Homo sapiens: one gene and its partner. The protein of the gene in region 1 interacts with the protein of each later gene in a biochemical or structural test. Each region holds a gene or a part of one and is shown on either strand. Other genes may lie near its edges.

Region 1 (3,753 bases):
TCCTCCTGCCTTAGCCTCCCAAGTAGCTGGGAGTACAGGCATGTGCCACAACGCCCAGCTAATTTTTGTATTTTTAGTAGAGATGGGGTTCTGTCATGTTGGCCAGACTGGTCTTGAACTCCTGACCTCAGGTGATCTACCCGCCTCGGCCTCCCAAAGTGCTAGGTGTGAGCCAACATGCCCGTCCTTTTTTTTTTTTTTTTTTTTTTTGAGTCAGAGTCTCACTCTGTCGCCCAGGCTGGAGTGCAATGGCGCTATCTCGGCTCACTGCAACCTCTGCCTCTCGGCCTCAAGCGATTCTCCTGCCTCAGTCTCCTGAGTAGCTGGGACTACAGGCCCGCGCCACAACGCCTGGCTAATTTTTGTATTTTTAGTAGCGACAAGTTTCATCATGTTGGCCAAGGTCGTCTTGAACTCCTGACTCAAGTGATCCACCCGCCTCAGCCTCTCAAAGTGCTGGCATTTCAGGTATAAGCCACTGCACCCAGCAGGAAAGCTGTCTTCAGTAAAAGTATTATATAATGACACCTTGCATTCTGAGAGCAGCTGCTGTTTTCAAGGCTCTTAAAGAGCCTGGACTCTGGAGACAAAGGGGCCTCCAGAGGGGTCCACGCCTAGCTCCATCACTGTGTGACCCTGGGCAGCTCACTTCGCCTCTCTGAGCTTTTGTTTCCGCATCTGTAAAATGGGGGCATGGATGATGAGGTGGTCCCCACCCTCTAGGGTGGCTGGAAAATTATGTGTGGGAGCCATGAGCACATAGTGTCCGGCACGTGCCAGTGCTCAGTCAATGAGATTTGTCATTTCTTCAGTCAACAAATATTTATTTTTGAGCTGCTGCTGTGTGCATCATGAGCTGGGAGCTGGGGAGACAGTCAGTGGTGAGGGAAACTAAAGTGATCCCTGCCCTCTGAGCTGACGCTCCACAGATGCTGAAGAAAATGAGTCAGTGCACTGTGGGCAGTGTTCGGGACTGCCTCACGCTGTGCAGAGAAACAAAGAAGGGAGATCGGAGCGCAGGAGGTGCGTGGCTGTGTTATTTGTTTGTTTTGAGACAGGGTCTTGCTCTGTCACCCAGGCTGGAGTGCAGTGGTGTGATCGTGGCTCACCACAGCCTCAACCTCCCGGGCCCAAGTGATCCTCCTGTCCCAGCCTCCTGAATAGCTGAGACTATAGGCATGCACCACCACGCACAGCTATTTTTTTTTCTTTTGCGTAGAGACAGGCATCTCCCTATGTCACCCAGGCTGGTCGCAAACTCCTAGGCTCAAGCAATCTTCCCGCCTCGGCCTCCCGCCGTGCTGGGATTTCAGGCATGAGCCACAGTGCCAGCCTTCATGGTTATTTTAAAGATGGTGGTCGGGGAGGCTTCACTCAGGAGATGACATATGAGCAAAGATGCAGTGAAGGAGGTGAAGGAAGGAGCCGTGCGATGACTGACAGAAAGACATTCCAGGTAGAGGGCACACAGGTGCAAAGACCCTGAGGCCAGATCCAGGCTGATAAAACAGAGCATTTTAGCAGTCTCCTCTCCCTGCCATTTTTTTTCTCAAAATTGACAAGCACAAGTGTCCCCGGCCCAAGCACCGCAGAGAGCGCGCAGCATCTCTCCCCGTGACCATGACCCAGCTACTGCCTCTTTAACCTTGAATGCCTTTTTGGGGGCTCACGTGTCACCCAGTGGCGAGTGAGCCACCCTTACTTCAGAAGAACGGCATGGGGTGGGGGGGCCTTAGGTGGTGCCCGCCTCACCTATGACTGCCAAAAGCGGTCATGGGGTTATTTTTAAACATGGGGAGGAAGTATTTATTGTTCCTGGGCTGCAGAGAGCTGGGCGGAGTGTGGAATTCTTCTCGGGAGGCAGTGCTGGGTCCTTTCCACCATGGTGAGTACAAGGGCTCCAGGAGGTGATGATGCCGGGTGGGCGAGGAGAGGAAGCCACTACAAGCGAGGGACCACGGCGGAGGGGGAGGAAGGCGGCCCTCAAAGCCTCCAGCCCCTTGTGGAAAAAGCCCCATTGACTGCGCGGGCACAGAGGAACCCCAATCAATGCCCCGATAGGCCACAAATAACAGCAGCTCTCGGGGACTCACAAACACAAAATAAGAGAGTTGGCTTTTTTATGGCTTGTCTACTGACCTCTCGAGGAATCAATAACTCCCAGGACTTGCAAAATGGGATTGAATGCTTTTAAGGATCAAATTGTAATTCTTTTCTCTTGTTCAGGCAGCTGGGAAAAAGAATGTTTTTGTTTTCACCTTTTGAACTTGCAAATTTAAAACCTTTCTTTCTGTGCTGTTGGGTTAGGTGTCCCCCTCCTGAAGTGGGCAGTCCCCAAATCAGGGTCAGCACAGGAGGGAGAGTGGTTAGAGGCAGGAACTCTGGAGTCAGAATGCCCAAGTTCAACTCCCCAAGTTCAACGCCCAAGTTCAACTCCGGCTCTGCCTTCTGTGTGTGTGGCTGTGTGATCTTGGGCAAGTGACCCAACCTCTCTGAGCCTCAGTTGCCTCTCCTGTAAAATGGGGATGATAATAATAGTATCCACTTGACAGAGTGGTTATGAGAATTAAATAATACATATGTAGAGTACCGAATCATTTGCTGTTATTGAAAGTCAGAGAGAAGTGGGGTGGGGAAGAAAGGTCAACTCGCTCTTCTCTGCCCTATTGATGTGGTGCAAGGACGGAGCATTCAGAGAGGAGGTTTTGCTGCCATTTGGAGCAAGGGAAAATTGTGGGGTGTGGGGCGCAGTTGGGTTTTAACACCTTGAAGAACTGTCATTTCATCTTGGCATTCATCATGGCTTAGTGAGCCTGACTTTTTCTTTCCCTCCAATCAATTCTCCTTCTGTGCATTACTGAGCTTTTTGTGAAATGCATCAGAACAAAAGTGGCTGGATCCTGCAGGGGCGATCTGAAGGTGTGGCCTCCATCCCCAGGGACACACCTGTGGCTTCTCCTAGTTGGTGAAGGAGCCACTGCAAGATGCACAAACGCTTATGATCCACTGGTACCAGAGGGCTCTGGAGAAACTTCATGTCATGTCCTTTGCTCCCTCCAGCATCACCGTTTGGAGACCTGAGTGTGGATGCTGTACCCACATTTCACAGATGGGCAGCTGAGCCCTGCAACAGAGATGAACACACCCAGAGTAGGGGCCTGACCTAGTTTTTTGACTCCCAGCCTCTCACTCTTTTAATCGATGCTTTTTTCCCCCAGGCACCTAAGAAAGCAAAGAAGAGAGCCGGGGGCGCCAACTCCAACGTGTTCTCCATGTTCGAACAGACCCAAATCCAGGAATTTAAGGAGGTGGGTGCAGCTATTGAATCATCCGCCTGGATGGAAATCCCACCCACGAGGGAGAACCTTCTTTTTGTTCCATATTCCCAGCAGGGACCTTTCATTAGATGCCTCTATCCTCCAAACAATCCCAAATTCGGCCTGAACGGATGTGTGAATTTTTAAAAGAAACTATTTTTAATATTTTCACTGATTATCAAAGTAAAACATATTCCATGTTGAAAAATGTTGGAAAATTTTTCAGAAAAGCACAGAAAAGGAAATAAAAACTACCTACAATTCTATTACCCAGAGATAATCAGTTCACATTTTAGTATATACCCTTCAAACCATTTTTGTTATCTATGTATATATTTATTAAACAAAATTATAATCTTCTGTGCCCACTGATTACACCTGCATTTTTTTCGTTGAGAAATTCACCATTAACATTTCCTATCATGTATTTAAACCA
Region 2 (3,753 bases), on another chromosome or scaffold:
AAAAGTTCTTATAAATCATTGAGAAAAAAGATTGCCTCATCCCCATACAAAATTAATGAGGCGCATGCAGGCATTATTATGGAAATAGCTGTTAAATGTAAAAAAAAGTGATCAGCCTGATTACAGTAGTCCCCCTTTATCTCAAGGGATATGTAGTCCAAGACCCCCAGTGGATGCCTGGAATCACGAATAGTACTGGACCGTACACATACAATTTTTTAAAATCTGATAATGAAGACCATTAGTAAGTGACTAACAAGCATGGATATGCTGGACAAAGGGATGACTCACATCCCAGGCAGGACAGAGTGGGATGGCACAAGATGTCATCACGCTGTTTACAACGTTGGGCAGTTTAAAACTTCTAAGTTGTTTTGAGCTTTTCTATTTAATGTTTTCAGACTGTGGTTCACCACTGGTAACTTGAAACCATGGAAAGTGAAGACAAGGATATGGGGGGACTACTGTATTAAGAAATTAGCATTAAATTAAAACTATAACATAAAACCATTTTTCACCTGCCAAACTGGCACGGGTTAAGAAACGAAATGGGTACTTTTGTGGACTGCTGGTAGAACTCCAAATTAAATGCACTCTTTCCAAAGCATCTTTGACAATAAGTTTCGCAGGCCTGAACTATATCCCTGTTAATGGTGGAGACAGTCAAGCAACAGGCAATTACAGTACTATGTAAAATGCTGTTTATAATATAGGGATGAACAGAGCGCTTGGGGAAACGAGGGAAGCATGGAGAATTCTGCCTGAGGACATTAAGAAAGATCTCAAACAATGGAGGATGGATAATTTTACAAGCAGACAAATAAGGGAAAATCAGTTCCAAGCAAAATGTCATGTGCAGAGGTACAAAGTCATCAGAATTACTTATGTATTTGTAATTTTGTGTTGGCTTGGCGTTGGGAGAAGGCAAGGGTAGGGAGTGGTAAAAGATGATGTGACACTAGAGAGAAAGTCTGAACCCAACTGAAAAGCTCCATGTACACTGTGCTCAGGAGTTTTGATTTATAAGTAGAAGTCTTTCAGTAAGGGATTGGTATTCAGGCTTAATGAGATCCTGAACTGAGTACTTGACAATGAAAACGAAGAAAATAAACCTGGATTTGGAAAGATTTCTTCAGTTGAAATAACTAGAATTAGATGACTGATTCGAAGGGATGAGGGAGAGGGTTGTAAGGGAAGTCTCGTCATACACTACAGTCGCATCTAGCGATTAGACTTAAATTTGAGATTGTGACACTGGCACACACTTCAAAGGTTTTGAAAGGGTATGCAATGCAGCTTTCTCCTAACCTATGCTAAAGCTGAGGCTTGGATGCCCTGGAAGGCCTGCTGATCACAATCTCCCAAGCAGTAGAGCTGAAACTATGGCTATAAGTTACATTATATATAAGTCTAGAGAAGTGAGTGTGTGCCAGGTTGCGATATGTGTTCAGTGAGTAATTATATCTGTTTGTGTGTTTTCTCAAATGTTGTGCTGTGTTTAGCACATTTTAAAAGAGTAATTTGAGTCGCTGTGTTTATTTTAAATTAGAGTAATCATCCATTAACCTATTCTGTCAGTGTTTCTCAAAGTTAACCAGCTGTATCAGAAATCGCCTCAGGTTTTTTATTTGAAAATGCAAATATTTGGGCCCTTTTCAGTCATATCTAAATCTCTTGGAATGAGGCCTTATAAAGAGCAGTAGGTAAATCATATACACTAAAGTTTCTTACTTTAGAAGTGTGTAAATAAGAACCACTGACAATAGTGATTACAGGTGAGACTTTGGGGACCAGATGAGTTCCTTGGCACAAGTTGATTCATGAACACCACAGTTTTAAAAATGAAAAAGTTACTGCTTTTTTTTATTATTTATTTATTTTTATTTTTATTTATTTATTAATTTTTTGAGACGAAGTCTCACTCTTGTTCCCCAGGCTGGAGTGCAATGGCACGATCTCGGCTCACTACAACTTCCGCCTCCTGGATTCAAGTGACTCTCCTGCCTCAGCCTCCTGAGTAGCTGTGATTACAGGCACCTGCCACCATGCCCAGCTAATTTTTGTATTTTTAGTAGAGACATGGTTTCACCATGTTGGCCAGGCTGGTCTTGAACTCCTCACCTCAGGTGATCTGCCCGCCTCAGCCTCCCAAAGTGCTGGGATTACAGACGTGAGCCACCGCATCTGGCCAGGTGGCTATTTTTAAAAACAAAGATGATAGCAATATTACAGTTTAGGTTATTGAATTAGAAAGAAAAGACCACATATATCCCAACTCTAAGTCCAATTTAGCCAAGATGACTTGCTAATGCTACTTATGTACCTGTGGCTTTTCCCTTGTCCCTAGTTTTTCATATGCAGGACAAAGCTCTTGGTGACACATTGAGCAGGCAGGGTCCTACTGGAATTCAGAAAGCTGCTTTCTTATTCTATTACTCCCTTTTTACCCCATGGTTTTTGGTGCTATGATGGAAAAACTGAGCTGACAATCTGACCACTTTGGTGAAGGGGAACATTGACAAATGTGCTTTCATAATTCTCAAATCAAACTGGGCATCAGGATGGTTATGTGTTTATCTGGGGTATGGGAGTGAGGAGGGAGAAGCAGATTGTTTCTTATTATCCCAAATATGATCGCTGTCTTCAAATATCTGGAAAGTGTACTTGGCCAACATGATTATATGCATTTATATATAAAGGGCAAGGCTTCCCTATGTGCGTCCGTCTTAATTTTAATCTTGTTGTTATCCATGAAGGGAAAATTAAAATGCTTACAAGCACATTCAAAGTATGATTTCTAAGTCATAACATTAAGTTACAGTTTCTAAAGAGTGTTAGAGTATAAATTTACAAACCTCCTATTGCAGATTGCTTGATTTGGCATTTAAAGACTGGGATTGGTCATTTGATGATGTTGATGGTGGTGGTGATGATGATGACGATGTTTTTGATTTCTGAAGAAATAAATGGGGTAAATCAAAAAATGAAAAATCAGTTATTTTAGTACTTCAACGTAGTGCATGTGGTTTGCCACTTGGGCTTTCATTATTTTTTATTTTTGAAACTTGTTTTTAATAGTATATAGTTAAAAGTAGTTTTCGAAAAGTTGCTAACTGAAATTTACATGTTAAGTGTAAAAGTGAAATGCTATGTTCAGATTCTTTATTGGCTATAAATTTTTAGTACAGTTAGAATTTATCTTAGGAATGAGATGTAGAAATCACAAAAGGAGTTAATTCTGATACGTTCTGTTCATTCCAAAGAAGCCATATTCAGAAGAGAAGTAAAATTTACAACGTTTTCAAGTTCCTACAGCTATATTAGTTTGTGAACATAGCATGAGATTCCTTTCTCCATCTCTCTCCTTTTATTTCCAACTTGCAAGAATTGAAAGCATAAAAACTTTATAAGTCTAATAAGTGCTGTGAAATAGCTATTTCTGATTTGGCATTTTTGTGTGTGGTGCTGTGAAATGTTTGCTTTGTGAGAATTTAATGTTACCCTTGCTGAAGAATGTCAGTGATACGCTGTGAGAATTGTGCTTTTAGAAAATGTAAAATAGTTTGGTTAATAGTGGCTAAAGGAGATTTGAATGAAAGTTGAGCCTCAAGTTAAACCTTTTACATAGAAGGATTTAAAAGAAATAATGTGTGTTTTAGTCTAAGTAAGCAAGTTGCAAAACATAAATCAGGTAGTACTGGTATCTATTTATAATCAGATTTCATAGAGTAGCTTGTATATATTTACTACAAC

The links. The genes of interacting proteins can lie anywhere in the genome.
Region 2: of the proteins of MYL2 (region 1) and ROCK2, one has a biochemical effect on the other in vitro, tested with the Homo sapiens proteins (one study listed by BioGRID).

What each region holds. Positions count from the first base shown.
Region 1 is NC_000012.12:110,918,659-110,922,411, reverse strand, and holds the start of MYL2 (myosin regulatory light chain 2, ventricular/cardiac muscle isoform), read left to right. Parts: upstream 1-1,832; 5' UTR 1,833-1,882; coding exon 1,883-1,885; intron 1,886-3,218; coding exon 3,219-3,308; intron 3,309-3,753. UniProt on the Homo sapiens protein: Contractile protein that plays a role in heart development and function.
Region 2 is NC_000002.12:11,183,884-11,187,636, reverse strand, and holds part of ROCK2 (rho-associated protein kinase 2), read left to right. Parts: intron 1-713; coding exon of another isoform or gene 714-765; exon of another isoform or gene 766-1,852; intron 1,853-2,867; coding exon of another isoform or gene 2,868-2,958; exon of another isoform or gene 2,959-2,971; intron 2,972-3,753. UniProt on the Homo sapiens protein: Protein kinase which is a key regulator of actin cytoskeleton and cell polarity.